Regions from separate parts of the Homo sapiens genome. Here regions 2, 3, 4, 5, 6 and 7 are each linked to region 1. The links come from fine-mapping of genetic effects on gene expression. A gene starts in region 1. Each other region holds a variant in brackets. All regions are shown on one strand. Distances are between the middles of the regions. Region 1 holds the start of SWINGN (SWI/SNF complex interacting GAS6 enhancer non-coding RNA). Region 2 overlaps C13orf46 (chromosome 13 open reading frame 46). Region 3 has its middle 21 kb from the start of RASA3. Region 4 has its middle 5.7 kb from the start of CFAP97D2. Region 5 overlaps C13orf46 (chromosome 13 open reading frame 46). Region 6 overlaps RASA3 (RAS p21 protein activator 3). Region 7 overlaps RASA3 (RAS p21 protein activator 3).

The links.
Region 2: its variant is fine-mapped to the expression of SWINGN in testis (GTEx, PIP above 0.99).
Region 3: its variant is fine-mapped to the expression of SWINGN in whole blood (TOPMed, PIP above 0.99).
Region 4: its variant is fine-mapped to the expression of SWINGN in whole blood (TOPMed, PIP above 0.99).
Region 5: its variant is fine-mapped to the expression of SWINGN in whole blood (INTERVAL, PIP above 0.99).
Region 6: its variant is fine-mapped to the expression of SWINGN in whole blood (TOPMed, PIP above 0.99).
Region 7: its variant is fine-mapped to the expression of SWINGN in whole blood (TOPMed, PIP above 0.99).

What each region holds. Positions count from the first base shown.
Region 1 is chr13:113,927,179-113,931,731 of GRCh38, reverse strand. SWINGN (SWI/SNF complex interacting GAS6 enhancer non-coding RNA) reads left to right here and starts at 2,741. Exons shown (of 1, transcript NR_047495.1): 1 at 2,741-4,553. It also overlaps a transcript of C13orf46 not described here. RefSeq lists an enhancer at 726-795.
Region 2 is chr13:113,968,589-113,972,588 of GRCh38, reverse strand. C13orf46 (chromosome 13 open reading frame 46) reads left to right here. Exons shown (of 7, transcript NM_001365455.2): 2 at 2,367-2,418; 3 at 3,829-3,994. Among named protein-coding and RNA genes, the nearest start is that of C13orf46, 3.5 kb to the left of the region's middle. The variant T/G (reference allele first, on the strand shown) is at 1,946.
Region 3 is chr13:114,151,102-114,155,654 of GRCh38, reverse strand. No RefSeq gene overlaps it. Among named protein-coding and RNA genes, the nearest start is that of RASA3, 21 kb to the right of the region's middle. RefSeq lists enhancers at 3,857-4,357, 4,358-4,553. The variant G/A (reference allele first, on the strand shown) is at 2,299.
Region 4 is chr13:114,171,312-114,175,864 of GRCh38, reverse strand. No RefSeq gene overlaps it. Among named protein-coding and RNA genes, the nearest start is that of CFAP97D2, 5.7 kb to the left of the region's middle. The variant T/C (reference allele first, on the strand shown) is at 1,944.
Region 5 is chr13:113,952,524-113,957,076 of GRCh38, reverse strand. It overlaps C13orf46 (chromosome 13 open reading frame 46), which reads left to right. Exons shown (of 7, transcript NM_001365455.2): 7 at 238-3,372. The coding sequence ends at 304. Among named protein-coding and RNA genes, the nearest start is that of C13orf46, 19 kb to the left of the region's middle. The variant A/G (reference allele first, on the strand shown) is at 1,642.
Region 6 is chr13:113,995,449-114,000,001 of GRCh38, reverse strand. It overlaps RASA3 (RAS p21 protein activator 3), which reads left to right. Exons shown (of 24, transcript NM_007368.4): 20 at 335-417; 21 at 3,263-3,471. Among named protein-coding and RNA genes, the nearest start is that of C13orf46, 24 kb to the right of the region's middle. The variant A/G (reference allele first, on the strand shown) is at 1,860.
Region 7 is chr13:113,975,270-113,979,822 of GRCh38, reverse strand. RASA3 (RAS p21 protein activator 3) reads left to right here. Exons shown (of 24, transcript NM_007368.4): 24 at 401-2,040. The coding sequence ends at 476. Among named protein-coding and RNA genes, the nearest start is that of C13orf46, 3.5 kb to the right of the region's middle. RefSeq lists an enhancer at 435-935. The variant C/T (reference allele first, on the strand shown) is at 1,751.

The DNA of each region.
Region 1 (4,553 bases):
TTCTTTAACACAGAATATGGGTCTCTGAGGGAAATGTTATCTCGTAATTTTCTCACTTTTGGTGTATTTAAGCTGTAGGACAAGGAGTGAACCCTAACATTTGGTGAGAGTCTGTGAAACACACTAGGAACCCCCATGCTGCTTGCGAGTTACTTCCGAGAAACAGCAGAATGTCACACCCTGTCACCCGCAGGTGCCGTCTGAGGGGCGCTCATCCCCACCAGCCCGAGGGCCTCCCCGCCAAGGGAGGGGTGTACTCCCTTCCACTTGGCGTCTGCTTGTGCATTGCCCCTCCCTGAACTCAAGACCTGAGCCTCTCTCGCCTGGACTATTTGGAAAGTCTACAAATGGAAGAAGGGGTGCTCTCACTGAGTTGTGTCCGCACAAGGGAAACTGTCCAGGAGCCACAGAAGCAACCGCAAAGTGAGCCTCTCAGACGTGGTTAAAGGGAAGCCAGGCAAAAAGACTGCACGCTGTTGGGTTTCATTTACTCAAAACCCTAAAACAGGCAGAATGAGTCATCTGTGGTAAACCAGCATTGGGGTTACCTCTGGGGGCCGGGAGGGAACCCTGGGGTGCCAGTCACGTCTGGCGTCTCGGCCTGGGTGGTGGGGATGGCTCGCCAAGCCTGTTTGTTGCACACGTGGCATGTCAGCAGAAACACGGGGCAAATACACACGTGAACACAAGAACCCCGGGTCCCTCCCTCATCTACCCAGCGACCCTCAGTCACCCCAGCCGGCTCCCTCTCGCCACCCACGGGCTTTCTGTGGAGGCCCCAGCCTGGCCCTGGAGGCCGTGACCCACCCCGCCTCTTGCCTGAGGTCAGCCCAAGAGACCTTCCTGTCTTCGGCCTGGAGAAGGAGCGGCCGCCAGGACCACCCGGGCCTCAGCTCCCTGGGAGGGCCCCTGGAGGACCGGGGCTGCTAAAGTCCACGGGCATCACCGCATCTAATCCAGGCCCTTTGATGTGGGTGATGTTGATACTCCCACTTTACAGGTGGGGAAACCAAGGCTTCAGCTTCCGTGGCCAGGGGATGAATGGGAGTGTGGTCTGGATGGTGGCTCCTGGACCGGAAGCATGATGGGAGCCATGAGGAATGCAGGTTCTTGGGTCCTTCCAGCTCTGCTGGATTGGATGCTCGTGGGGGCTCAGGGTCAACACAACCCCCCAGGACTCTGACCTGGGAAGTGGAGCAGCCTGATTTGGAGGCGAGGACACACCAGGAGGCACCTTGCCCTGTGGCCACTGCACTGAGGCTTGAGAGATCACTAGAGACAGCTCAGCCTCAGTGCTCCCGCGCCCCCGCCTCGGTGCTCCTGCGCCCCCGCCTCGGTGCTCCTGCGCCCCCGCCTCGGTGCTCCTGCGCCCCCACCTCGGTGCTCCTCCACTCCCACCCCGGTGCTCCTTCCACCTCTGCCTCACCCGATGGACTGTGCCTTTGCGTTTCTTGTGCACAAATCCTGCTGAAGTCTGGGCAGCTGTGTGTTTGATGATGGGCTTGTAGGAGAGAAGCATCTGGACTGCGCCGTGCAGATGGCGCTTCTCTCCAGGCACAGTCACATTCCTGGGAGGTTCCTGGAGGCCTCCGAGCCTCGTGCAGACCCAAGGCTGCCTCACCACCATGGCCACAGCCCAGTGCTGGCTGCCGGGCATCAAATCTGCAGAAATGCACGTGGCATAAAAGCACCAGAGACATCCGTCCAGAGCCGAGGGCTCCTCCCTGGCCCAACATTTTGTCCACGTAAGTCCACTTTTTGGCTGCTGCTCCCAGGCCTGGCAAGAACGCAGATCCCCACAGCCTCCTGCTCCCTGGCAGCCTGAGGACAGTGTCGTAGGCCTGGGATCCTCGGGCAGAACTGAATGCAGCTTTTCCATTGGAGGGCGCTGGGCCCACATGGCAATCACAGGTATGGCAGATGAACTCACGGGATGCTCCGGGACTCCAGGGGCCTCAGGAGAAAGGCCCACTGGCAGCGGGTTGCCCAGGGCTCCAGAGGGGGGCTCCAATGTGAACCAGTTGCTTGTGGCACAGCGGGTCACCCAGGATGGCCCTGCGTGGTCAGTGATAACAGGCAGTCACTCACAGCGCGACTTCACCCATGGTCACTCCCGGTGACCAGCACTGCACAGCCTGGGCTTTCGTCCCACATGGCACCTCCCTGTCCAGCCTTGGCCCAAGTGCCTGGGAAACAGACAGGGCACCGTGTGCCTGAACACACTCGGACAGTCGAGGCCCCCAGGAGAAGCAACAGGCAATGACTCGGTCCCCAAGAAGCTGAGCCTGTCCTTGCTGGGGTCTGTCATCTCCTCTTAGCCCCGCCAGGCTCCTGAAGCTGCCACATGTGCAGCGGGAGGTGGGTGGTTTGGGAGCAGAGCGAGGCTCTGGATGGACGGGCTTTACCACCAGCAGCCACCACCACCTGCTCTGCAGGGCCTGGGCCAGCCCTGAGGAGGTGGCAGACGGAAGGAGGGGCAGCACTGCCTCAGGTCTCCTTTACTGTCTTCCAGACATCAGCTCAGGGAGAGTAGGCATGTAGCACTGAGAAACAGGGTTGCTCCCCATGGCTGCCTCTGCTTCCCTGCCGCACAGTGTCTGTACACGGCCTGGGGACCTGCGAGGCCAGACCGCAGGGCAGGGGCCCACGGCTGTGCCAGCTTCTCTCCCAGGCCGTGGCGGTTATTACCTCCTGACTTGGCAGAGCATCCGGCTACTGGAGCCCATTGGTTCCGGCCAGTGCAGTCAGGACTTAGCTTCCCAGCTGTGATCTAAATCCCAGCCTCCCAAAGGCACAGCGCCTAAGTTCTCCCCTGCCAAGCTCACAGCCTTCTCCTTGGCAGGCTGCCCTTTCTCCTGCTGGACCAAACCAAGGAGCACGGTGACCCAGGGACACCACACTCGGTGTCAGCCTCTGAGGCCATGGAGCCACGCAGACCCAGCACAGGATTAGAAACAGACCTTCCCGGGAGGCAGAGAGCCAGGCCTCCTGGTTTATAGCATGACAAGGCAGCACTCAGGAGGACGCATCAATCCTTCTCCATGTCAGCACCTGTGACTGTGACCACTGGTGAGGTGGACATGCTTCTTTTTCCATTTTACAGATGAGGAAACTGAGGCCAAGGGAGGGTCAGCAGCCTGCCCTGGGCTGACTGGTGATGCAGCGAGGGTGGGGTGTGGGAGGGTGGCGGCGGCCCTTGCAGTCCCTGGGAACCTGCACCTCTTCCTGGGCGCTGTTCCCCTCTCTCTCCCAGGACCCTTGGGCCTGGCGTTTCTTCACCTGCGACCATCCAGGAGCTGGACCTGCCCTAGGGCGTCAGTTTCCAGGGAAGCCTCTGGCCTGTGTGTGAGCCTCCCCACCTGCCCGGCCACGGCCTCCACAGGCGCCCTGCGCAGCCCCGCCCCTCCTGGGGCAAAGGCTTTGCGAAGACTTTCTTCTCTGGCTCATCCCTTTAAGGAGGCATAAAAACGAACCCCGGGCCTCACAGGTCCGGAATGCGCCCCCCTCCACGATGGGAGCTTCTTGGCCTTGGCTGTGCAGGGGCCGCGGCTCCTGGGGGTCTGGCCGGATCTGCAGTAGTGCTGAATGAGCTGTGGCCAGGAAGACGCAATGAATAATTGTCACTTAAAAGGATAAACAGAAATTCCATTTCCCTTTTAAATACTTGAACATTTCAAAACATCTGGAGGACGCGATGCTTTTCCTTCCAAGCATCTCCGTGGAGTTTTGTGGGTTACCGCAGAGGATCGGCAGCATTCCTCTCTCAGGGAAAACTGGCCTGAGCATTGCATAACGCAGGCAGACTGCACCCCTCACGTCGCCTGGGGCCACATGCACATGTTTCCAAGAGACTTGCTGGAGAATCTTCCCCGGATCTTGACAAAGTTGGACATGGAAAGCACGTTGGTCCATCCAAGGTCCACAGAGCGACCCTGGCTATGAAAAATCATCCTCCGAGTGGGAGTCTGTCTGCCAGGAGTGAGGTGACACCGCACATGGCCTCAGGAGCTGGAAACGCTGGTGAATTCAGATGCAGCCAAAGCTTCTAACTTAGTCACAGTTATTAATTATTCTTGGTCTTATTGGAGCAGGAACCACTGCCATGCATCAGGCCAGCAAGGCTCACTCCCCACCGTAGGATCCCTGTGTAGACGGTCGCTCCATCAGTGTAGTTGGGTGTGTGGAGCAAGGGACTGGGCTGACCCTACCTTCCAAGCATCGATGTGGCCTTCAGCAGAGCAGGAGGAGATAGCCCAGGACTTGTACTTTGCAGTTGAAGTGCCAGACCTAAGAAATGCAAACCTGAGGATGGAAAGAGGGTGGAGAGGGGGGAGGTGTCTGGATTGGCCGTCCAGAGCAGCCCCAGCTGCAGCAAGTGGAACTTGGCTGGCTGCCTCACAGGCCTGGTGGCAGCGTCCCCAGCGAGGAGCCTGTCCCACATATGAAGGTCCCCATACCCTTAGCCCCTAGCTGAGAGTTTCACTGACCAGAGCTCCCTGAGTCCAGGGCTCCACTCAAGGGACTGCTGTCCCCGTTGGTGAAGAAGGCCTGTT
Region 2 (4,000 bases), 41 kb before region 1:
CTGCAGTCACCTCCTCACACCTTGAATACTGGCCCAGAGCACAGGGCTGAGGGGCTGACACGGAGCTGCGAGCTGGCGCTCCCCTCCCCTCCCGCGGCCTCGGCAGCTCCGCCTCCCCTTCGCAAAGGTGTCCACGGGGCCGTGGAAGTGAGACAGCCCGGTAGGACTCGGGGTTTGCTTGCTCAAGCCCTGGGGACAATTTTAAGAGGTAATGATGTAAAAATATGTGTTCTTCTCTGAGTTTAAAAATCCAAATATGTGCTATTTGGGGGGCGTGAGTAGTTAGGAGGCTGCACCCTACCTCCCTCCCCACGGGGTTCCCTCAAGACGTGCAAAGTTCTCAAAAGAATAAGTTACGCCAAGGCTGCTTAGCGGGAATTTAAGTTGGGGCGGGGAGTGGATCTCCAATAATGCCGCCCGATGCCACCACAGTGCGGACTTAGAGGCCGGGGTCGGATGGAGGGAGGGATTGAGCCCCATTGTGGCTGACATTTCCCTCAACACCTGCTGGATTTGCCCAAAACTGCACGATGGGAGGTGCCGCAGCAGGGAGGCCGGGCTTCTGTGTGGCCGCTTGTCCTGTCTGGCAAAGATGTCCACCCTGCACAGCCTCCCCCAGGCACCAGCACCCTCAGGGTTCGAGACCACGGCCCAGGAGCGCATCCTCCCTGGAGCTTTGTGGCTGCCCCCAGACAACTGAGATTCTGCCGGAGAAGAGCAGGAGGCATTTCCAGCCCTGTGACCCGAGGAGAAGGGCCGGGCCTTGCTGACCACTGGTAGAGTCCGACGTGGCCTTGGTTTCTGCAGGGACTCAGCTCCTCACCCCTCGCAGACTTGGTGGGCTCCATGACATGCCCAGTGCCACGTGCACCCACAGGTGCCCGGATGTGTGAGACGCCGCGTCCACTTCACAGGGAGGCCTCCGGGATGCGGGAGACGTGGGGTGGCCGACTTCACGGGGGCACCAGTGGGGTGTGTCTGGGCCTGGGCCATGCGGAGCACAGGAGACCAGCGCTCACGGAGGGCAGCCCAGAGAGGCCGGCAAGAGCACAGTGAGAATCCGCTGGGTTCCAGACCCACTGAGGCCCTGCCTTGAGCCCACATGCACCCTGGACGCCTGTTGATTCTGCAAAGGCTCTGCGCTCCACCTCTGGGCCCCACTCGTGGCTTCTCTGTTGGGGGCAGCCCCTCGTGGTCGGCCATTGGTCTCATTTCCCTGGAAGAGCCCCATTCCCCAGCTGCCCCTTGGGCCTGTGGGCTGAGCTGAGTGACCTGCCTGGAGTGGCCCATGTGACTCTGCCGAGCTCTGGGAGGAGGTCTGGTCTCTTCCATCACAAGCATCATTTAAAGCTTTGGAATCATCCCTGTTGTATTTGAATCCCGGGCCAAGGGGGTGTTGTGGGAAGAGGGAGTAGCTGCGGGAAGCCAGGGTCTCCGCAAACATTCCCGGCTCCGATGCGGCTGGAGGCCCTGTGGGATCTGGAATCCGCTCACTCCAAGGCTCTCCTGAGCACCTAGGGCTTGGAGAATCCTCTGCCACATGACTTCCTCACAAGGCTGTGCTGGTTTGCAAGCTCCTGGGAACGGAGAACTCAGTGTTTAACTAGAATGGAATGTTTCACGTTGGCCAAGTCAGTCAACACCTTTAGCCAAGTGTGCCAGGGAGCAGTGTGTGCTCGGTGCAAGCCGGTGGCCAACAGCCAGGCTTGGGTTCCTGCCGGGAGCACCAGAGCACCGCTCACCCGAGTTGATGTTCCTGGGCCCCTGTCCTCTGTCACATCAAGGTAAAGATCCTCACGAGACATAAAGTGGTCCCGAAAAAAGACTGCTAGAAACATCCCGCAATGCCTCTCGGGGAGCCCAGAGACCCTGGGGATTGGTGGATTTTCCTGGACAAGCCAAGTGGGGTTTCAAGTCCCACCTGTCCGTGAGAGGAAGCCTGGGT[T/G]GGGGGTAGTAGCCGGCATGGGCAGGTCTTGTGGGCTTCTCCCACCCTCCCGCTCAGCTACCTCCAGCCAGCTGTGCTAGGACAAAGAGGAGTTTCAAGAGGTCCCGGAGCCTCATGTGTTTACTGTAAGGCGGCTGGCCATGCCTCACCCTGAGTCCTGCAGGGAGAAGGTGGAGCCCAGGTGTGGGCTGAGCTGCTGGGGCTGAGCCAGGCTCAAGGCCCTGGCACCAGGCTGTGGAAAGTGCCGATAGCAAATACCGGAGGGCCGGGCATGGGCACAGGTCGGGGAGAAACTCAAGTTAGCTGTAGCCATGGCTGAGAGTTGAGCTCTGCTGTGGGTGGCTGTGGGCGGCTTGGGGCAGGTCCTGAGCTCCGGTAGCTGCGGTGTAATGGTGCTGACGGCTCTGTCCTTCCTCCCCAGAGTCCGAAGATCAAGGGAAAGACCCAAGCAGTAACGCGGAAGATGCCAGCTGGTAAGCAGCCTGTCCGACGCTGGCCTTTGTGAAGGTGGAGCTGGGAAAAGTGAGGTGGACACAGGAGAGGGTGGGGTGTGGGAGTGGTACCCGGGCATCAAGGTAGACACTTAGAAGGGGACAGAGGGAGCCCTGGGTCCTGCGAAGACCCCGCGCAGGGCCTGGATGGGAGGGCTGGGAAATCCTCCTTATTTTGAGAGGAATTCAGCGTGGGAACAGGACCCACCTGTAGCGGGGTGGTGTCCTCAGGACTCGGGCCCTGGCCTGAGGGTCACACAGCTGCATCCCTCTCAGTAGACACCCCATGGCCCTCTGGGGAAGGAGGCGTCGTCTCACTAGTGGACTGCTGGGCCCACCTTAGATGTAAACAACTCGAGTGCTCCTTTAGGGAGAGGGCGTGGGGCCCTGGACAGCACATCCCCACTTCGTACTGCCGAGTTCTTGCCTCCCTGCACCTCGCGTCCCGTTCTAACCCAGCTCTGGTTCTCCCACCCACTCACCCTCCTGCCATCAAAGAAGACTTAAAAGTCATTGAATTCCTCAAAAATTTGTCTCAGATCTAACAAAGTCGATTTACCAGCACCATGGCAAGGCACGGGCCAAGTCCCCCTTATTTACAAATGGCTCCCGTTGAGTGGAGACCAAGGAAGGTGTCCGGCCGCCGAAGCGGCCAAAGGTGCAATCAGTTGGTGAGAGTGAGTGTTCGTGTGTTAGACAGGATGTGTGCGGCGCCTGGAGCCTCCCACTCCGTAGAGCTCAGGGAAGCTGATGGCCTTGGTGAGGGCAGTTGAGCTGGGAAGACCACACACCTTTAGGGTGGCAAAGCTGAAAGCGTCTGCTCACGTTGGCCAAGTCAGTCAATACCCTCGGCCAAGTCAACGCCATTGCAGATGGTGGCGGAGCCCCTGTCATCCTCACTGCCTGTTGCATTCCTCTTGCCCCTGGCCACACACCATAGCAGACCACAGAAGGGGTCACGAGGTTGGTGCGAGTAACAGCAGGGCCAACCGTGGACCCTCCAGCCTACTGGCCAGCATGGCCCATTTGGTATCCACATGGAGTGTGGATCTGCGACAGGGTGGCTGCATCTTCTCATCAGATTTTGGTTCTTTGAGCAAGGTTAGACCCTGCTTTCCAAAATAAGCCCAGGTTGGCTGTAATCCCAGTCCAGACCCTGGCTGTACAGGGTAAGTTTTCCAGGCAAGATGGGCCAGCAGAGGGAGCCAGGAGGGCCAGGCTGTGGGGCCCTTCAGAGCCAGAACTCTGTGCTGGGTCAGGGCACCTCATAGGTGCCCACCAGACCCCAGGGGCACCAGCCTCAAGCCCAAGGAGACAGACCCAGAGGAGACCAGGAGCTGCCCGCAGCTATCTGCCGTCTCTTCCAAACCACTTTCCCTGCTCCTCCCGCAGTCAGAAAAACCTAGCACAAGACAAGAAGGAAAGCTTCAGCACCCTTGGGAAGCTGGGTCATGAGAGTGGAAAACAAGACCCAGAGAGGGAGAAGAGCGACTTGGAGGCCAGCATGCAGGAGGTGCAGGAAGGCGAGCACGCAGACGGAGGCTTGCAGGAGGCCAAGGTTGGG
Region 3 (4,553 bases), 220 kb before region 1:
CATCCTCATGCCTGGCCCCCACCCCTCCCCACTGTCCACCCGTATGCCCAGCACCCACCCTCCCCACCCCTCCACCCTCACACCGTGCATCCCACACCTTCCCCCTCCAGGTAACACCCTACACCCCTACACCCCACCACTGGCCCTAATCTTCCATCCCCATGCCCCACACCTCCACTTTCCCCTTAGCCCCTCACCCTCATGCCCTGCACCCCATACCCCACTGCTCCCACAGCCTTCCACCCCATGCCCCACACCTCTACCCTGCCCAAAGCCCCCACCCTCACCCTCACACCCCACCCCTCCTCATAGCCCCCACCCTTACATCAAACTCCCCCTACATTCCACCCTTCCCTAACCCCCCACCCCGTGCCCCACACCTCCACACCCCACTCCTCCCCTGAGTCCCCCACTTCCACACCCCACAGTCGCACACACTACCGGTCTCCCAGCCTTCCACCCTCACACCTTGCACCTGCGCACCCTCCCCCTCCCCCAGGCCCCACCATCATGCCCCCACACCTACACCCTCTAACTCGACCTTCTAACTCCCTGAGCTCCCACACTCTGCATCCCACACCCCACACCCCACCCACCCCGTTAGCCCCCACTGTCCCATGTCTCATGACCCACACCCCACACCCTCACAGCCCCCTCCACCCCCAACGCCCCACTACAGCCCCCCACTCACCATAACTCCACACCCCACCCCTGCATCCCCCATCCCCACCCCTGCATCCCCCATCCCCCACCACTTTGCCCCATGTTCCCAACCTCCCCAATCTCCCCCATGCCCCACACCTTAACCCCCTACCCTTATACTCTACCTGCACATCCAGCACCCAACCCCAACTGCAATCCCCTACACACCTTCCACGGCCACTCCGCACCCCCACACCTCACGGGCCTCCACACTCCTCAGAGCAACTGGAGCCTTGGGCCTCAGTGGTGGAAAGAGGAGGGTGAGCCTCAGCAGCTGCAGGAAGTAGCAGCCTCCTGGGACAGCTCATCTAAGGAGGACAGGCCCCCTTAACCAGAGAAGCCCCACAGGGTCTAGACACAGACAGAGTAAGGCTTTTTTTTTTTGAGACAGAGTCTTGCTCTGTCACCCAGGCTGGAATGCAATGGCGCGATCTCGGCTCGGCTCACTGCAACTTTCACCTCCCGGGTTCAAGCGATTCTCCTGCCTCAGCCTCTTGAGAGTAAGGCACTTTTTAACAAGGGAAAGGGGCTGAGCGTGGGGCGGCGCTTGCAATCCTAGCACTTTGAAGGCCTAGGCGGGAGGTGCTTGAGCTTGGGAGTTGGAGGTGACAGTGAGCTAGGATCACACCATGGCACAGACAAACCAACAGACAAAAAACGGGAAAGGCACAAATGAAACGATGAGAGCAGCAGAGAAGTGTGGCCACAAGGGGAAGGAAAACTGAGCAAACGTATCTCCTGGAACAAAAACATCAACCTTCCAAATCAAGACACACCCACAGTGGAACACAGAATGCTTAGTGAAATTTTTAAAAGAGGATTGGTTAGAAACTATAACATGAAATATGACAAAACCAAGGGCCACTGCATCCTTCCTCTCAGTCTACATAAGTAAATAAATTCGACTCACCTCTTCAACAAAAAGACTCGTGGGATCATTCGCAAAGTGAAACCCAACTTTACGTTGTGTGCAAGAAACAAGCAGAAAACACAGCAGCCCAGACCTTCCAAGGCAGAGGTCGAGGCGTGCAGGCAGGTCCTGAGAAAATGTCAACAGGCATGGAGATGATGGAGTGATGGAGATGATGGAGATGATGGAATGAGGAGATGATGCAGTGATGGAGATGATGGAGCATGGAGTGATGGAGTGATGGAGACTATGGAGATGATGGAGATGATGGAGTGATGGAGATGATGGAGTATGGAGTGATGGAGTGATGGAGACTATGGAGATGATGGAGATGATGGTGTGATGGAATGATGGAGATGATGGAGATGATGGAATGATGGAGATGGTGATGATGGAGTATGGAGTGATGGAGATGAGGGAGATGATGGAGTGATGGAGTGATGGAGAGATGGAGATGATGGAGATGGTGGAGTGATGCAGTGATGGAGATGGTGGAGTGATGTAGTGATGGAGATGATGGAGGGATGTAGTGGTGGAGATGGTGGAGTGATGCCTCTAGGCTCTCGGCAAAATCTGCTTTTATCCTGGACCCTAAATTAAGTGTGTGGGAATAATAAAGATATTTTTAGACTCATACGGACTCAGAAAGTTTAGGCCCTGTATGATTTCTTCAGAGCAAGTTGGCT[G/A]AATTCTCACTATCGTAGTCGGAAGTCTGGCACAGACTCTATCTAAAATTAGTGAGTAGAGAGTGTTGTAATAACAGGAGGAGGTTGGAAATGCCTGACCAGAGGAAATAGTCGTCGTGGTTGCCATGCGGGCGGACGGGGAGATGGTTGAGGCCACCACTGCCGCCTCCCAGCACAAGCCCTCAGCGTTTTTAACCAAATGCACATGTTGTGCTTTCAATGTTGCTTTCAGCAGGAAGGCACATGGAGCTTTCTGAGTACTGACCCCGTCCCCCTCACACTTGCCTTTTGTTCTCTGAGCTGCCGGCCTCAGGCAGTCCGCGTCTTGTTTGAGTAAGGGAGGCTGCCCCGTTCCTGCTACAAGCGTCCCTTGCCGGCATTGCTGCTGCCCGTGTGACTTCCTGACTGGACATTTGCCACTGGCAGCAAGAAGCCCAGGCCCCTCCGATTCTGCTCCAATTAGGCCCAACCTGAGGGGCCTGACCGGAGCCCCATTTCCCCGTTGTGTCTTGACCAAAAGAATACCAGGTGGGCCATTACTTGCTTTCCAACAAACAGGTGGTGAGGAAAAAAACTTTTCCTTCACTCACTTATGTTTTTTAGTGACTGGAGTCCTGCAAATTGAACTGGCAAAAGTAGATTAACAGGAGAAAAAGCGTTACTTCATATGCATGTGGCGGCTTCACGAAATGAGACAAAAACCCCGCAGAGGCAGTCAGACCAGAGGCTTATTCACGATTTTAACAAAAGGCAATACATTTGTGAAGTGATGAGCTACAGGAAAACAGTGTTGGGTTCCTAGGGAGGTAAACTGTGAGCGGGGAATGGTGTGAGGAAACCACGGAAGCTGGGATTATTTTTGTGCGGGTCCTTGAGTGGAGCTCTCCCAGTCAGGTGAGGGTGGTGTCTCCAAGCACAGCAGGCACTGTGGCGCCGGGGAAAGAGCTGGAGCCTAGGACTGTCACACCTATCACCCGTGGGACAACAGTTATGTGTAGACTTGGGACTGGGGGACAGGTTCAAACCATGGTCTGCTACTTGCTGGTGACATCTCCTTAGGCAAAATCCTTAAATTCTCTGTAGAAAACAGCTCTAGCAATAGCATCCATTTCATGGGGTTACAGAAGAATTGAACGACTTAATAAACGCTAAGCACCTGACCGTGCCTGGTGTGCAGCTAGCTGTCACCACGTGAAGTGCTTAGCACAGCACTGGACAGGACCCTGGATGGAGGGCAGCGTGGCCGTGTTTGCTAGGGCTGCATTGACAGTCGTCAGCTGGGCGCTGCCTGCTTCAGCACAGACGATGCCGTTCCTCAAGGCGGTTTTATGCCTCTTCTTCAGAGTCAGTAGCACGTTCTCTAAAATATCCTTAAATATGGCAAATCTTTGTCTTTAAAGGTAAACTTGAATTTTATTTTTCAATACAGACCAAAGTAATTTGGAATCAAGTATTTTACAGGAAGTGAGTGATTCAGGTAGGCAGTGACACTGACCCAGAAGTCAAAGCGCCGCCTGGCTGTTGCAGCAATACCGGGCGGTGCCTAGGCTCATTCACTCGGCCCTGCTACCTACTTGGAAGAGCGCCCGGGCAACCGCCTACAGTCTCGCAGCTGTAACCTCCTCATCTGTCGAATGCAGAGGACAACACTTCATACCTCACAGGGTGATCTGTTCTGTTGGTTCACCTCGGAACTGAGGGGCTTCCTTGGACACTAACACTGGACGGTCGGGGGCAAACCGTGCAGTTGCCCCCCTAGAATTAGATGATCCGTGTGCACGTGGCACTGGTGAGTGCTCTGGAAATAGCTTTTCTTATTTCTTAAAAGTTGTTTTTAAAGATAGTTCAGAAACAATGAGTGTTTTGTTGAAATGGTGAGTTTGTGATGGTGCCCAGACTTGCCTCCATACACCGAGCCTGCATGGCCCTTCCCCTGTGACCGCTGGGCCTGGACACACGGTGCAGCTTGACCAAGGGGACAAAAGCAGCCCTGACACCAGCAGAAACTTGGGAAGTGCTTGAAAGGCATTGGACGTCCCCGCTGTTGCGGTGGGAACCTTCTGCTGCCAAGTGGGCAGGCCGAGTTGGCCTCCTGAGAATGAGGGAGTGAATGACAGAGACCTCAGGTGCCTCGGAGGCCATGTCTCTGCCAAGGCCTTGCACGTGTGAGTGAGGCCCTCTTCCACCCCAGCCCAGCCCAGGAGTCTCAGCCCCGAGAACCTTCCAGCCAACCCTCAGAATTTCGGGAAATGATG
Region 4 (4,553 bases), 240 kb before region 1:
TTTAACGTTTTGTTTCTTAGAAATGCCTTGAAATGTCACCAAGTGATATCCTGAAATGTGGAGGCCGTTACATAGAACAGCTTACTATGTTGCATGCAATATGTAAAGTATTTGCTATATGACACATATTAACTCAGTCTTTAATATTCATAATTCTTTTCCTGTGTCCTTAACTCTAAATCCAAGCTTTGATTTTTCTGTTCTGCCCTCCCACAAAAGGCCGTATCTTCAAAACCAAGCAGCAACTTCGTTCTCATTCTGCAGAAGAGTGGTTTACAAACAAATCTCCAACCACTTCAAATTCACTCAACCTTCAACCTTTGGAGGGCAAATGTGCTTGCAAACATTGATTTCCAGAAAAGGTAACTGTGTCTCCAGTACCTTCTGTGTAGTGCAAATCACTCAAGAGCTGAGCTAAAGAAGCTGGGAGTCACCACCACCAGGAACTGCTGCGTGACCTGCTTAAGTCGACCCTTCCACTGAACAAAGCCAGAATCCTGGAGGCCATCTTGCATATACTGAAGAGCCCACCCAGGAGTCAGGAATTTTGAGGCTGTGGTCAAAAAAATCTGTCAGACCCCCGAGCCAGCACTCAGAGGGCTTCTCCTGAAGGCACTCAGGATGCCAGCGGTGGGGTCTTTGTGGGGGATGGGGCAGGTGGGCAGTCTTCATAGGAGCTGAAGTCTTCACCCTCAGGAAAACGTGGATCAGAAATAACCCATCCTTCAACAACTGCCAGGTTACAGCAGAGCAGGGGACAAGACAAGGAAGAGCCCTGCGGCCCAGGTTCACACAGTTGTGAAATTAGCTTAATGTCACAGTGCCTAAAAAACCCTCAAGTCGCGAAATTATCTTAACGTGGCCCTGGACTGATGACATCTCAAGATGCTGCCAACTTTCCAGTGTCTCAGTGCACCAAACATCTTGCAAAGTGAATCAATCCTGCAGAGAAGACACGACTAGCACCACAGGAACCTTGGAGCAGATGGCTCAGACACAGATGATAAGACTCACTCTGCTTCAAGGCACAAAAGACAAAATCGGAAATAGCTGCAGAGTACAGGAAACCATAAAAGTTTTCAATACAGAAAGAATGTTTACAACATTTGCAAAATTTGACCGTATGCTGGGCCATGAAAAAGTGTCCACATGTTTCAAAGGGCTGAAATCATACAGATAATGTTCACAGTGGCAGAGAGCCAGGAATTCATAACAAAAGATAACTGGGAAATCCCATGTTTGGAAACTAAGCAATGCAATTCCAAGGTCAGGAACAAGACAGGGATGTCCCTGTGGCCTTCCCTGATACAAGAGGAGCTCTTTGGATTAAGTGGATTAATGTGTTAGGGGTCTTGAACTGTCCACCTAAAAGGAAATTCAAAGGAACAGGCTCTCCAGAACAAATAAATTTAAGTGAGAATAGCACGGGATTGCATGCTATGATAGATCACAGGCACACTGGAGGGGCCAGGGCAAAGGGGAGATCTTTAAAGACAGAGAGAACTCCACAGAAGCTGCTTTGTAACAAAAATCACTGGTTAGCAGAGCTTGTCCCAGAGCTGGCGTTAGCTCCTTGTGCAGGCCGCTCACCTGTAATACCGACCTGTCTTGAGGAATTTTCGTGCAATGCATCCTAATATGGGCGAACCTGAGGCCCGTGCAGGGGTGCCTTGAGATGAGGCTTGTCCAGGTGTTTGTGTATGAGGGCGCCCCGTCATGGCCTCCCCACCCCATTTTGTTAGAGTTTGATATGAGTGAACCTATTTTGGTACTAGCAACTTTCACAGAACAGAAGGAGTTCAATTTGCTGGTAATTAGTCATGGTGGTGTTAACTGCAGCCTTACTCATGCAATCATTTCTCAAGAACCCTATTCCTGGGACGATTCACTTAGGTCTCAATCCCACTCTGGAAATAGTCTTAAAAAATTGATGCAGAAGCATG[T/C]GAAAGCTGAGTGTATAAACACATGAATTCCAGTGTCACTGGTTTACTGTTGCACAGAGCTGGAGCTGGGCCCACTCCACACAGAAAGTGATGGGGTGTGGTGCAGCCACTCTTGTGATGACTGGAAAGACAAACCCAGCAAGATATGCACAAAACTGCTCCTTTTACCAGTAAGTGGGGAGCTGAGCCCAGAAGATACCTTGGAAAAACTTCCTCTTACTAGCATGTGAGAAGCTGAGACTGGAAGACACCTTGGTAAAGTTAATTTGTTATAGGTGTGTTAAAGCAACTAAATATGGCCCAAGAAGGACTCTGTACTTCCAGATTTATGAGTCCTTGTGGATAAACTGCAGCCTAACTTAATAGGTAGACAAGATTGAAAACCTAATTTAGGAGTCTGAGCCTGTAACAACAGCTGAGTCTTGGCCAATTCCAGCAGCTGTACTTCAACCACTCACCCTGCTGAGTGTCCAAACTGTGTTCAAATAAGGCAAACCCTGAGCTGTAACCAATCCAGCTGTCTGTACCTCACTTCCAATTTCTGTACGTCAGTTCCCTTTCTTTGTCTATAAATATTCTTCCACTACATGGCCGTGCTAGAGTCTTTTCGGATCTGCTGTGATTCTGGGGGCTGTCCAATTTGTGAATCCTTCATTGCTTAATTAAACTCCTTTAGATTTAATTTGGCTCAAGTTTTTCTTTTAATAGATGGTGTCAGAAGTGGGATCTGATATTGTAGGGGTTATAAAATTTGGCTTTTGGAAATTCACAGGGATTTTTGTGTTCCACCCCTTTGTTTCATTTTCCCTGTGCGCTTAGGTAGAAAAAAATCATTGGTGTATTAATCTGTTTTTATGCTGCTGATAAAGACATACCTGAAACTGGGAACAAAAAGAGGTTTAATTGGACTTACAGTTCCACATGGCTGGGAGGCCTCAGAATCATGGCAGGAGGTGAAAGGCACTTCTTACATGGCAGCAGCAGGAGAAAAATGAGGAGGAAGCAAAATCAGAAATTGCTGATAAGCCCATCAGATCCTGCAAGACTTATTCACTATCATGAAAATAGCATGGGAAAGACCAGCCCCCATGATTCAGTTACCTCCCAATGGGTCCCTCCCACAACATGTGGGAATTCTGGGAGATATAATTCAAGTTGAGATTTGGGTGGGGACACAGTAAACCATATCAATTGGCTAAGTTAATCAAGGGAATCTGAGAGTAAAGCCAATATTTTAGGTAAAAATAGGATCCTTTTTTTTTTAAAATTATACTTTAAGTTGTAGGGTACATGTGCAGAACATGCATGTTTATTACATAGGTATACACATGCCATGGTGGTTTGCTGCACCCATCAACCTGTCATCTACATTACGTATTTCTCTTAATACTAATGCTATCAAAAATGGGATCCTTAGTTTCTAGAAAACTGAGTTCCTTCTGGCTTATACATTAGGCCTGGGAGGCCATGAAGTCTTAAAGAAATGGCAAAATCTTACTAAAGGTAACTTACAGTGGAATGTTCCAAATGAACAATGCACAAAAGTGCATTTAAAAATGAGGGTTCACAAATTAGTCTCATCTAGGGATGCATATTAATATGCAGAAGCTTTTAGAAAGATTTAGAGATGATGGGGCCAATCTGGGGGCAAGTTTGAGCCTTGCCAGTTTGATATTGGGGGCAAAGCAGAGTGGCTAACATCTATGTTTTGTCACATGTATTTTGCTCTGGCCAGAGCAGAAAAAGATAATTTTCCTTTGTGCTGTGGCTTGGCTGCATTGGCTTTGGTGCAGCAAGCCGGGTCAGTGGGGCCCTCGGGGAAAGGGAACCCAGAAGCCTAGCATGCCGACAAAATGCTAAGGATGCCTCGTGAGTCAGAGAAATCCTGGCCTCTTTTTCTCTGTGCAAACTGGTTAAATGAATAGTAAAAATCACTGTTTATCTCCTCTGTAAAGTTTTAGTTAATATGAAAAAGAATTCTGAGGCTGGTCTTAAACTGTAGTGAATCTGGTGTGCTTTGTGTGTCTTTCTGTATTGTTCTGTCATTAAAAGGGGTACCTTGGGATAAAATGCATGCCTAAAACACCATAAGCCCACTGTTCGAGATGCAAATTGGTCAGTTATAAACTTTGCTTCAGGTCCCTGAAAGAAGAAAAAGAAAATAAAAGTAGATGAGGTCTCCATCTTGTCTTAAACGTCCCTGGGGGCTTGAGCTTGTAACCACGTGGAAATGTTTTCCTCAGTCTCTCTATCACAATGGCTGCCAGGTTCATGGTTCAATTCCCGGCTTAGGGAATGAGTACTTTCTGATTGATATTTGGGTGACATTTGCCATTTTTAAATCCTCTTCCCCTCCATGAACAGTCTTGAATTTTCCTTTCTGTAAGCACAAAAATATTGGCTGTTGGGCCTGGCTAAAGTCGGGTAATAAGAAACTTAAAAGAACTTTTATTAAACAGTGCTATAGATAATAGTCAGCTTCATTAAAAGTGGATATTCAAGCTCCAAGAGCCTGGGACTCTTTAAGAAAAACAGGGGCACCAGAGACCCCTTCCTGGCCCCATTCTTCCAAGGACTGGACCCTATACCAGTAATCCAATTAAGAAACTA
Region 5 (4,553 bases), 25 kb before region 1:
TGAAATGGGAGCATATGCAGGTACAGGGGAGACCCCCCAGTGCACTTGATGAACGGGGGTGCATATGCAGGTACAGGGGAGACTCCCCAGTGCACTTGATGAAAGGGGGTGCATACACAAGTGCAGGGCAGACCTCCCAGTGCACTTCAGGTTGGGGGTGCTGCTCTCGGGGTGCCTGTGGCCACAGTGCTGGCCCAGGACCCTTTCTCACCCACCTGCCCTCCTCTCGCCCTGCAGGATGCAGACCAGCTGGGTGTGCTGCATCCCGTACTCCACCAGGAAGAGGGCAAAGGAGAGCACCTAGCGCCCCGGAGAGGGTGCTCAGAGCTTGGCGAAGAAGAGGAAGGAGACGGGGTGCAGAGGGGCTGGGGGCACAGGAGGCGGGACGGAGGGCGATCCGGCCACCTACTTGCCGCCCAAGAGCCTTCTCTGCCAGGCACTGAGGTTTCTGTTTTCTTCTTGTGGGACTGGCCAGGCCTGGAAGGAGCGAGAGCACAGACTGCGCCTTTGGGCTAAAGATCCCGCCAGCTCTGAGCAACGCTGGGGTGCCGATGACCACACCAGGTGTGAGCCACGCCTGAAACCCACTGCCCACTGGGTGAGTGATGACGTGACCTTCAACAAACACAATAAACAAGCACGGGAAGATGCTCCTCCTCTCCACCAGATGCTCCTCCTCTCCACCAGATGCTCCTCCTCTCCACCAGATGCTCCTCCTCTCCACCAGATACTACTCCTCTCCACCAGATACTACTCCTCCTCTCCACCAGATGCTCCTCGTCTCCACCAGATGCTCCTCCTCTCCACCGGATGTTCCTCCTCTCGTCGAGATGCTCCTCGTCTCCTCGAGATGCTCCTCGTCTCCACCGGGTGCTCCTCGTCTCCACCGGATGCTCCTTGTCTCCGCCGGATGCTCCTCCTCTTCGCCAAATACTACTCCTCCTCTCCGCCAGATCCTACTCCTCCTCTCCGCCAGATACTACTCCACCTCTCCGCCAGATCCTACTCCTCCTCTCCGCCAGATCCTACTCCTCTCTGCCAGATCCTACTCCTCCTCTCCGCCAGATCCTACTCCTCCTCTCTGCCAGATCCTACTCCTCGTCTCCGCCAGATGCTCCTCCTCGTCTCCGCCAGATGCTCCTCGTCTCCGCGAGATGCTCCTCCTCTCTGCGAGATGCTCCTCCTCTCCACCGGATGCTCCTCCTCTCCTCGAGATGCTCCTCCTCTCCTCGAGATGCTCCTCGTCTCCACCGGCTGCTCCTCGTCTCCGCCGGCTGCTCCTCGTCTCCGCCGGCTGCTCCTCGTCTCCGCCGGATGCTCCTCCTCTCTGCCAGACACTACTCCTCGTCTCTGCCAGACACTACTCCTCCTCTCCGCCAGACACTACTCCTCGTCTCTGCCAGACACTACTCCTTGTCTCTGCCAGACACTACTCCTCGTCTCCGCCAGACACTACTCCTCGTCTCTGCCAGATGCTCCTCCGCTCCACGAGATGCTCCTCCTCTCCACGAGATGCTCCTCCTCTCCACGAGATGCTCCTCGTCTCCGCCAGATGCTCCTCCGCTCCACGAGATGCTCCTCGTCTCCGCCAGATGCTCCTCCGCTCCTCGAGATGCTCCTCCTCTCCACCGGATGCTCCTC[A/G]TCTCCGCCGGATGCTCCTCGTCACCGCCGGATGCTCCTCGTCTCCGCCGGATGCTCCTCCTCTCCGCCGGATGCTCCTCCTCTCCACCAGATACTACTCCTCCTCTCCACCAGATACTACTCCTCTCTGCCAGATACTACTCCTCTCCGCCAGATACTACTCCTCCTCTCCGCCAGATGCTCCTCGTCTCCGCCAGATGCTCCTCGTCTCCACGGGATGCTCCTCGTCTCCACGGGATGCTCCTCCTCTCCACCAGATGCTCCTCCTCTCCTCGAGATGCTCCTCATCTCCACCGGATGCTCCTCGTCTCCACCAGCTGCTGCTCCTCTCCACCAGCTGCTCCTCATCCCCACTGGATGCTCCTCATCCCCGCCGGATGCTCCTCCTCTCCGCCAGATCCTACTCCTCCTCTCCGCCAGATCCTACTCCTCCTCTCTGCCAGATCCTCCTCCTCGTCTCCGCCAGATCCTCCTCCTCGTCTCCGCCAGATCCTCCTCCTCGTCTCCGCCAGATGCTCCTCCTCGTCTCCGCCAGATGCTCCTCGTCTCTGCCAGATGCTCCTCCTCCCCACGAGATGCTCCTCATCTCCACCGGATGCTCCTCATCTCCACCGGATGCTCCTCGTCTCCACCAGCTGCTCCTCGTCTCCACCAGCTGGAGGACTCCAGCCCCTTCCTGCCCTGGCCTCTTGCTCAGTGGCTTGTTGGGTGGGGACAGAGGCCCCTGGGGCACAGCAGGGGAGGCTCAGCCCTTTGTGGGCCTCGTGTGAGCTGCAGCTCCTGGAAGCACCCCCACCAGGCAGGAGTGAGAGGTGCAGGGCAGGGATGGAGCATCTGCTGTGTCACCAAAGTCCCTGCAGGAGCCAGGAGCACGGTGGACGCAGCTGAGCCCCGGCTGTGACTGCGAGAGCAACAGAGACTGTGGTGCTGGCACTAGGATCTGTCCCTGGAGGGAAGCCACATGCTCCCCACTCAGAGGAGGAGAGGGAGTCTTCCTAGGGGTGTGGGGGGCTCCAGGACATGCCTGTAAGACGAGTTTCACCAGAATCCACCCAGAGCCCTCTCGTTCAGACACGCACACGTGCATATTCATATGTACACAGCACATACATGCTCGTACATACCACACATGTGCACAGGAGGGCACGGGCAGGTGACCTGCAGCATCTCTGATCCGGGTGTCTCTAAGGCAGTCAGAGGCCACAGGCGGAGATGCTGTGTGCACTGTCTATTCCCGTGGAGACACATGGGGGCCGTCCCTGTGGTGCACATGATAATGCAGAGGCTCCCAGAGGGTGAGCTCTGCCCATCACTCAGCCAGGGAGGGAGGGGCCCTTTTCAGGGAGCCGCATGCCACGCAGAGCTTGTCCCACTGGGTAGTTTCCTCTGATCAAAGTGGGGCACCATCCAGGCTGCAGAGAGAAAGGGGACCCCCCAAAGCCAGCACCCACCCTTGACTGAAAGACACCACAGAAGATAAGTGCCCATCGGCCCCAGAGTCATCATTTCCCAGACAACCGGAAATGGGCCCTGGACGGGCTGTCCTGGACAGGCTGCCGGGCAGTTGGGTGTGACTCAGTTGCGGCCTCCAACTGTGCCAACCAGAAAGGCACCCAGAGAAGCTTCCGGAAATACGGTTGGTTTGTCCCCTTGGTGGGGCAGGAGGCGGCAGCTCTGCCGGGTGGCTCCCAGCACCCTCCCCCACAGAGCAAACATCGGCATGAGTCTGTCCACCCGTGTATTCGTCCTGTCGCCGCGTGTGGCTGGCCTCATTCTGGGTATGCTGGCGGCAGCCACCTCTAGGACAGGGAGGTCCCATGGCTCTGCAGACACAGGAGCTTGGCAGTGGCTTAGCTGTTAGAATGTGAGCCTTCCAGAGTCAGACGCGCCTTTGCCTTCTGTTGGGCTCTGAGCTCATTTCCTCAAACCCAGGGTAATTCTGTTCCTCCTTCACTGTCTGGTGGGGTGGGGGTCACAGTGTCCGGGGGAAGAGCTGATCAGGGCCAGTGCTGGGGTGGGAAGGGCTGACTCCTGGGACCCCGGAGAGGTGATTGTTGCCACGGGGGGTAAAGTTCCACGTGCTGCTCCTCTGAGCCTTGATTCTGGGCACTCCAGGGCGGCCAGGCCTGGCTCACACCTTCCTACCTCAGGGAGATTTCCGTGGCGCAGGCACACGCCCTGTGGGATGTGAGTGGCCACCTGGCTTGGGCCCCAACTCCCATCAGAGAAGCGGGCAGGTCCCGAGCGAGCTGTTCAGGGCACTCAGCAGCCACACACCCAAGGAATGGGGCTGCCTTGTGCCAGGCCGGGGGTCTGGGGAAGGGCTCAGTGGGCGCTGAACTCAGAGGGTCCTGGCAGCGGCAGTCAGCGTCCAGGATGGTCAGCGGTGAGGCCAAGCCCCGTCTTAGTGGAGGGGACGAGGCTGGGCTTTGGAGACTGTGGGGAGCAGGAGACATCCCTGAGGAAACAGGTCTACGCGCCGCAGAGCCCGAGAGCAGCTCCTGCCACGTGGTTGATGCTGCTGAGGCCGGGGGCTGCCTCTGCCCCGCCGCCCCGCCCAGCATGAGCGTGTTCCTGCTGCTGCCCGGCCCGTTGGGCTGAGAGGCTCAGGCAGCAGCGCTGGGGTCGATGGAGTGGACCAGGCAGGGGCCCAGGGCAGGAACCCCCTGTAGATGCACAGCCCTGAGCTCAGCAAATCAGCTGTGGTGACATCCAGGGAGGGGTGGAAGCCCAGGCTCCCCCTAGAAGGACGCTGCCCTTGGCCTTCAGTCCTATGGGGCACAGATGCCGCCTGGGCTTTCTAGGGCCGGCCAGTGGTCCTGGGGTGGTGGCCCCCGTTGCCCCAGGCCCAGTCTGCCTCAGTTTTATCCTCAGTCCCCACTGGCCCCTGACCTGTGCAGATTCCAGTAAGT
Region 6 (4,553 bases), 68 kb before region 1:
GGTAGAGATCCCCTGACAGAGACCCCCCCAGCAGAGACCCCCCCCCAGCAGAGACCCCCCAGCAGAGACCCCCTGGCAGAGACCCCCCCCGGTAGAGACCCCCGGTAGAGACCCCTGGCAGAGACCCCCTGGCAGAGACCCCCCCAGCAGAGACCCCCGGTAGAGACCCCCTGGCAGAGACCCCCTGGCAGAGACCCCCCGGTAGAGACCCCCTGGCAGAGACCCCCCGGTAAAGACCCCCTGGGAGACCCCCCGGCAGAGACCCCTCAGCCCCACCCGGACCCCAGCCGGGACAGCGGGGCCCGCACCCACTGACAGTCCATCTCTGCTGCAGGGGACCAGCCTCTCTACAGCATTCCCATCGAGAACATCCTGGCAGTGGAGAAGCTGGAGGAGGAGTCTTTCAAAATGAAAAACGTGAGTGTGGGGCCCCCAAGCCTCTCTTTCGGGTTGAGGCCTGGCCAGGTTTTCTCTGCTCTCTTCCCGTACCTGGCCCTGGGCTCACCCTTCCCCACCCACTGCACTCCAGGCTTCTCAGAGTCTTCGTGTTACTCGGGTTGTTCACCAGGTGCTGGTGAGTTTGTGTCGGAATCTCGCATCAAAGCAGCCACACTCTCTGTGCCCGGGGTCACCGGGGTGGGGTGGAACCTGCCGGAAGGTGGGGCCTGAGCTGCTTCAGGTGGCGTCCCCCGCAGGGTCCCCAATGTCAAGGGGCCCTCTGTCAAAGACATCCCAGAAGCAGGCTTGGGACCGTCTGGAATTCCTTTTGGAAGCTTTTTTATTTTGATATAATTTTGAATTTATAGAAGTTGCACGAGTAGAACAAGTACTTTCCACACACCCTTGACCCAGACCCGTGTGTGGCCTCGTTCCCCGGTCACGCTTGACCCGGGCCCACGTGTGGCCTCGTTCCCCGGTCACGCTTGACCCGGACCCACATGTCGCCTCGTTCCCCAGTCACACTTGTTCCTTCTCCCTTCACGGTCCCGCCCGTGCTTTTCTGAATGTATCAACACTTCCAAGTGTGTTTCCCACCGTGCAGTCCCCAAAACCACAGCAGCCACCATCGCACGTCGCCGGCGCGACCACATTCGAGTTTGCCGCTGTCCAGTCCCGTTCTTCCGGCTGTGGTTCCTTCCCCTCTGGATCCAGTCTGCGCTGCATTCTGCTGCCCCCTCCGTCTGGCCCACTGGACACTCCCAGCCTTTCTTTGTGTGTGGTGGCCTTGGCATCTTTGAGGCGTGCAGGCCTTCGGTTTTCTGGACATCCCTCCCTGTGGGTTTGTCGGATGTGCCGACGTGGCAGGTTCTGATGATGCATTTCTGGCGGGAATCCCCTAGAGGTGTCCGTGGCGTCACCATTGTGTGGTGGCCTCCCAGAGTCGGCCGCTGGCCACGTTCTCCCTGGTGACTCAGTGCCCCTTCAGCCAGTGACCCCGCCGTCCGTGCCATCCTGAGGCTGACCCCGTACCCTGACACATGCTGGCTGGGACAAGCCTTCTGTGCCCCGACTGCAGCATGAGGGTCATAGAACAGTTGCAGGGAAGGCACAGTCCCTGGGCCTCGTGCCAAAGTTGACGCATGTTCCTTACCATTGGCAGAATTTTACTAGCATGTTATTCACAGGCAGTCCAGACAGATCCTGCAAAAGGCATAAGTTTGGAGAGTAATTTGAAGAGGAGGGCATGGGAAGAGGAGGGCTGGGAAGAGGAGGGCTGGGAAGAGAAGGGTTGGGAAGAGGGGGAGATGGGAAGAGGAGGGTGTGGGCTCAATGCCTGCTGACTGAGGGGGATGGCCGGAACCTGGCCCTGAGACCGTCCCTCGAAGGAAGCAGTGTGGACATGTCCTGGAAGCACCTCC[A/G]GCCCTTCACATAGATTCCCAATAATTCCCTAGTTTCAGCCGCCTGTTCCCAGCTGTTCATTCCCACTGACTTCCTCAGAGCCCGATTCCCCTGAGGCCACTGCCAGGCCAGGCTCTCACCAGCTGGGGAGACCTTTCTGAAGGCTGCTCCTGGTGGCAGGGCCGAGCCTGGGATGATGGCCAGGACGCCCTCCATGGGGGATCACAGCCATGCACGGGGGCGTCCAGTCCGAGACCTATACACATGTGCCGGGTGCAAGGCGGGAGGCTCCTGGCCTCTGTAAATAAGACCTCAGCTGTTCACCAGAAACCTGGAGCCCAAATCCTCCCCAGATGAGTGCAGAAGGCCCGTCCCCTAGAGAAGGCCACTGTCCCCCTGACTCCTGACTTAAGGGCAAGTCCCACATGAGAGCCCTCCCAACCTCCAGTCAGTCTCCTACTCAGAAAACCTGTCTTCTGTGTGCAACAGAGCCGGCTCCTTCTGGGAGCTTCTGACCTCCAATCCTAGGATATCTGTCCCCCCTGCCCCAGCACCCCCGTCCCTCTAATCCTAAGGCTTCTGTCACTCCTGCCCCGGGAGACCTGTCCCTCCAATCACAGGACCCCTGTCCCACCTGCCCCAGGACCTTTGTGCCTCCCATTTCTTCTGCCTTTGACACCCTTTGCCCCCACCCCCTGCTTAACTAACTTTGAGTCAACGCCGACTACAGCACCAGGACTGCTCACTTCCAGCTTCTGCTGACACCTGCCCTCGTTTAGTCTTTCTTGGTGGCTGCAGGTTCAGTAGAAACTCTATGCCAGGCTTTGTCTCCGGGACATAGGAGAGTGCTGGTGCTCAGTCATGTTTGTTGAATGAGTAATAAATGGTAAAGGTTGTTGCTGCCCCGAGACGCTTCAAGAGGAAGCAGCCCCCTAACCCCAGCTGGGAGGAGGAGGAAGAATCCTGGGCTGGTCAGTTGGGGAAGGAGCTGAGCAGGCCGGGCCACCTGGGCTGACACAGCACGAGCACCACGTGGATGGGATGCCTGCAGTCAGCTGCAGGAGGGCCTTGTGGGGAGGCCACAGGGCCCCTCTTTTGTCTTGAATGGAGACCTCCAAGGCTCCAGGACATAAAGGGCCTTGGCCAAGCTGTTCCTGGCCACCTGGCCACATCTCCAGCTGCACCAGTTCTCACCTCCATTCCCCACGGCCCCAGCTGTCAGGTTTTAGGGTGGCAGAGAGCTCCATGCACCCCCTGGCCTTGGCCTCTTCTGGGGCTTAGAGCTCCAGGACTTTTGGGCCTGTGCACCCTCAGCGTCCCCTCTTACGACTCCGGCGAGGACGGCCAGGTGCCTGGTGGACTCTTGCACGTGCTCAGCCACGAGACCTCATGTGCGCTGTCCTGAGCCCACCTGTGTCCTCAGATGTTCCAGGTCATCCAGCCAGAGCGTGCGCTGTACATCCAGGCCAACAACTGCGTGGAGGCCAAGGACTGGATCGACATTCTCACCAAAGTGAGCCAGTGCAACCAGAAGCGCCTCACCGTCTACCACCCGTCCGCCTACCTGAGCGGCCACTGGCTGTGCTGTAGGGCGCCATCCGACTCGGCTCCGGGCTGCTCGCCCTGCACTGGGTAGGTCTGTGCCTCGGTGCCCAGCTCGTGCACTGTGCAGGAAATGTGGCCAAGGGGCTGAGTAGGGAGGGACCAGCAGACAGTGCATGCCTGCCTGTAAGCTGCACATAAACAGGGCTGCCCTCGCCTCCTCCCAGGAGCCTCCCACCCGAGGGGTCCTCCCTCGAGGGAGCATCTGGGGCCCAGCCTCTGGAAGGCTCTGCGCAGACTCCAGGGTGCCACAGGCCTTCGAGGGTCTTCCTGAGGCCCTGCCCCGGGGGAGCGGGAGGTCAGGGTGAAGGGGGACTCCCCAGGCCGTGGCCATCCTGCTTCTCTAGGAGGAGGCTGGGAGCAAGCCCCTCCCTGAAAGCTTCGTCTGGCCCAGGACACCCACCTTGATTCCACATGACGCAGCAGCCCGTTGTCTTCCCGGCCCCCCATCAGCCGGGTCCCCATCAGCCGGGCCCCCCATCAGCCGGGCCCCCCATCAGCCGGGCCCCCCCATCAGCCGGGCCCCCCCATCAGCCGGGTCCCCCATCAGCCGGGCCTCCCCATCAGCCGGGCCTCCCCATCAGCCGGGTCCCCCATCAGCCGGGCCCCCCATTAGCCGGGCCCCCCCATTAGCCGGGCCCCCCATCAGCCGGGTCCCCCATCAGCCGGGCCTCCCCATCAGCCGGGCCTCCCCATCAGCCGGGCCCCCCGTCAGCCGGGCCCCCCGTCAGCCGGGCCCCCCGTCAGCCGGACCCCCATCAGCCGGACCCCCCGTCAGCCGGGCCCCCCGTCAGCCGGGCCCCCGTCAGCCGGGCCCCCGTCAGCCGGGCCCCCCATCAGCTGGGTCCTCCGTCAGCCAGCCCCCCATCAGCCGGGCCCCCATCAGCTGGGTCCTCCGTCAGCTGGGCCCCCCGTCAGCTGGGCCCCCTGTCAGGCCCCCCATCAGCAGGGCCCCCCATCAGCCGGGCCTCTGGCAGTTGCACAGAGGCTTGGGTCATATCTGCCGGTCCTAAGGAGGAGGCCTGGGTGCCTGGCGGTCCCCCTGGTTATGCTCCGTGAGATGCACCTCGCTGTTGTTGTGGCCACGTGATGCTTTCGCATAAGGGCCCTGC
Region 7 (4,553 bases), 48 kb before region 1:
TGCCCACGCCTGCTGAGTGTCCCAGCACTGGGACAGATCTGTGTCCCTGGAGCTCATGCTCCCCACACATGAGCACACTCTTTGCAGTGCAGATGTGCACATTCTGCACACGTGCCATACACTCTACATATTCCACATCTGCACATGTATATGCGCTACACACGTGCCACAGGGAGAGCACACGTGCACATGTACTTGCACGCCTGACCCACCTGTGCACACACATCAGAGTCACCGTGGGTGCTTCCGGGGGCACTGTGGTTCCTTTGGCTCCTCTATTTTTTGTGTGGATTGCAGTGTGAGTGTGTCACATTTAGGAACAGGAAAAGCTCCCGCAGCCACGGGTGAGCACCAGGCAACGGGGTCTGTGCCTCATTCCCTCTCCCATCCCCCTTTTCAGGGAGCACCCCATCGGAGACAAGAGCTTCCAGAACTACATCCGGCAGCAGTCCGAGACCTCCACTCATTCCATTTAAAGTCTGCGGGACGCGCCCAGTGGCGCCAGCAAGCTGCCCATGCAAAGCCGCAGCCTTTGGGAGGGAGAAGAGAAGGAAGAGCGCAGAGCCGGCAAAGTGAGATGCACGCCGTCCCGGCCCATAGACAAGTGGCGCTGGGGTTTCCCTCTCCCAGAACCGCTGCCACCACCGCCACGCCCTCCGCAGAAAGCCCACCTGGCCCTGTGGAACGTGTCGTCATTTGATTCTGTGCTTTTTGCTCCTTGTTTGTGGGGATCTGGGGATCAGCTGAAGGATCAGGAAGTGTGGGCTGTGCCCTAGCCACACCACAGCCAGCCTCAGGGAGCCACGGCCCGTCTAGTCGACTGTGACATGCACCTCCGGCCGTGTGTGCGTCAGTCTCGTGCACGTCTGTCTTGCGTGCACGGTGCGTGTGACGCTGGGCTCTGTGGCTCTGTGCCCGGGAGGCCTGCTGGCCCCGCCTCGGCTTTCGGCTTCATCACATTGGGAGGTTCAGAGCATTACTCTCCCACTGTGCCTGCCATCCAGGCAGCCATGGGAGGCGGCCTCCCTGTTCCACTTTCGAGGTTCGTTTGATTCCTGGCTGAGGGGTCAGTTTTATGGCTGGGAGGTGCAGAATTACACAGAAGTCCCAGTCTGAGGATGTCCTTGGTGCTTGGGGGATACGGGTTCTGTCCACAGAGTCCCTTGGAGGGAAAGGTGTGGGCTCCAGCTTCTCCAGGCGTCTGCGGAGCCCACAGTTGAAGCCCACATCGTTTTGCTGTTGAATGGGGTTTAAAATCAGAATTAACATTTGCCACCCCCCGTGGAAGTTTGAAGATTTTAAAAATAGAAATGTACATTTTTCAAGCTGTTTTTCTTTATGTTTTTGAAGGACCATTTTTAATTAGCTCTTTGATACAAAGTAACTCAGAACGTCAAAACCTATACCCACTAAAGGGAAGGCTGCCGGGAAGGCAAATGGAACAGGAATGGAGCCTGTCTCAGGAAGGCCAGCTGCAGGTCCTCCAGAAAATCAAAGAAGGGAAGAAACTCTGAGTTTGAGGTACAGGGGCTTCGGGGTGCAGACGTCCCTCCAGGGCCCATGGTCAGTATTGCACCTGTGTTATGAACCCCCAGATGCTGTGCAGGGCAGGGGCGGGGGCTGCTGTTTTATTGGGGAGGGGAGCATCCTAAAAATGGGGTCCAGGCAGACCCCTCCAGACCTCACACTGCCGAGGAGGCCTTTCCCAAAGGGCGTCCTCCCGGGATGCAGACGGCAGGTGTGTGGGAAG[C/T]GCCGTTTAAATACACAGCACGACGTATCCTTGTACCGACTTCTCCCGGTTCTTGTTTGAAAATACTGTAGTTCAGGCTCTTGATCTAGATGGCAGATAGGAACTTTCTTGTCACAAAAATACTGGAGGAAAATGTTGTAAAAATAGACTTTTGGACACACAGCTGTTGGGGCTGCACTGAGCTGCAATTTTTAACATGGATTTATAACTTAATGTTTCTGTTTATAAAATACTAATGATTTGCAATGTATTTTACTGGCCAATTAAAACAGATGTTTTATTCTTTCTGAGGACTGCCTTGGTTTTCCAGTGGTACCCACTGGGAATTGCACATGTGGGCATTAGGGGTGGGGGGTACAGGGAGGAGGGTGGCACCTGGGGAGCAGGATGACATTGCTGATGCCAAGTGACGTCCCTGGTGATGGGTGATGCTGCTCTGACAGGTGGCACTGCCCTGATGACAGGTCACATTGCTGATGCCAAGTGACATCTCTGGTGACAGGCAGCGCTGCTCTGACAGGTGACAGGTGACATCGCTGGTGACAGTTGACGCCTCATGACGGGCAGCGCTGCTCTGACAGGTGGCACCGCCCTGATGACAGGTGACATCACTGGTGACAGTTGACATCTTTGGTGATGGGCAGCGCTGCTCTGACAGTGGCATTCACCTGTGGTGCCTCAGGTGAGAGTCCGGCCCTGTGATAACCTCAGGAAAGGTGTGTCCACTCAAGGAGTGCTGGGCAGACAGACCACCACGTGCTGCCATCTCCAGGAATGCAGAGGGGGAGGCCACTTGGAGGCCCTGGGAGAAGAGAACGGACTGCGCCTCTAGGCAGGTGGCTGCTGTCCCTCCAGGCAGGAGAGGGTTAAGGGGGGCTCTGGGTGAAGACTCCATGATACGTTGCCTCATTTCTTTATTCCTTTCCTTGCTCCATTTGAATTCCTCTTTTTTGGTAATTCTATTGTGAGTCAGCTCTGGTATGAGAAAAATGAGGAGGTGTGGCTTTGGGGACACCAACCCAGGCCTTTCTCCCAGGGAAGGGTGAGGCTTGGTTCAGCCTGGCCGGCCTCCTTAGTCCATGCTGAGGTGTGGGGTCTGCCCCAGTCCAGGAGTGGCTATGGGTGGTGGACAAACCCTTGCAGGTGGGGGCATCCTCCCCGGGAGGCCAGCCCGTCCTCCTGGAGCCACACTTCCCGGCAGGGCCTCAGGCAGTGTCGGGAGCCAGGGGGCTCCGTTCACACTCTGGGCACAGCTGTGCTGGGGTCAGCCCAGGAGGGCCAAGGTCAGCCCCTCCAAGAGGAAGTAGAAGGGCAAGGAGGACGAGGCCCCAGGGAACGTGGAGAATGGAAGCCCCTTCTGGAACAGCCAGGAGAGTCCTACAGGGCAGTGGGAGGTGGGAGTGTATGGGGGCCGGAAGCCCCTGCGCGTCTCCACTGATATGGTTTGGCTGTGTCCCCACCCAAACCTCATCTTCAGTTGCAGCTCCCATAATTCCCATGTGTGGTGGGTGGGACCCAGTGGGAGGTGATTGAATCTGTGTGGTGGGAGGTGATTGAATCTATGTGGTGGGAGGTGATTGAATCTGTGTTGTGGGCGGGACCCGGTGGGAGGTGATTGAATCTGTGTGGTGGGCGGGACCCGGTGGGAGGTGATTGAATCTGTGTGGTGGGAGGTGATTGAATCTGTGTGGTGGGAGGTGATTGAATCTGTGTGGTGGGAGGTGATTGAATCTGTGTTGTGGGCGGGACCCGGTGGGAGGTGATTGAATCTGTGTGGTGGGCGGGACCCGGTGGGAGGTGATTGAATCTGTGTGGTGGGCGGGACCCGGTGGGAGGTGATTGAATCTGTGTGGTGGGCGGGACCCAGTGGGAGGTGATTGAATCTGTGTGGTGGGCGGGACCCGGTGGGAGGTGATTGAATCTGTGTGGTGGGTGGGACTTGGTGGGAGGTGATTGAATCATGGGGCGGTTCCCCCATACTGTTCTCGTGGTATAAGTCCCACGAGATCCGATGTGAAAGTTTTATGAGGGTTTCTCCTTTTGCTTGGTCTCATTCTCTCCTGCTGCTGCCATGTAAGACGTGCCTTTCACCTTCCACCATGATCGCAGGGCCTCCCCAGCCATGTGGAACTGAATCCATTCAACCTCTTCTTTATAAATTACCCAGTCTCAGGTATGTCTTTATCAGCAGCATGGAAACTGTCTAATACACCCACCAAGAGACTGCAGGTGGCTTTGTGGAGACCCCAGTGACGCCCATTTGCCCTTGTTGCTCCAGACGACCCAGCACTTGTTGGAGAGAGACAGCGGCCTCCTCTCCCATCCTGGCAGCATCCGCGGGGCTCCCGACATCAGAGTGTCCAAAGCAGGTGCCTCTGAGGAACCGTCCCAGGAGGCCAGGCAGTGCCAGAGCGTGTGTGAGGCCAAGGCCCCCACCCTGCACCCACCACTTGCCCAGAGAGCTGAGGCCTCCTGGGTGCTGAGAGGCTGTGGGCTCTTCAAAAGAAGAGATCAGAAGGAGGGGAGCCTGCAGCCTGGGGGTCACACCTGCTTCCCCCTGGCTGAGGAGCCCCGGGTGCGGGAAGCGGGTCCTGGGGGCGGGGGGGTGCGCCGGCTCGCGAGGTGCCTGTCAAGGGGCAGAAGGGGCTGCCCAAATAAGCCACACTGTTGTAAGGGTTGTTTTGAGCTGAAACAGCCATCCACAAGGATAAGAACGCTGCTTTCTTCTGGCTCTGGAGAGCGTCTTCCCCGTGGGGTGTTACCTCCTCTTTCAGGAAGGAAAGGCCATTCCCGGCCACACAGA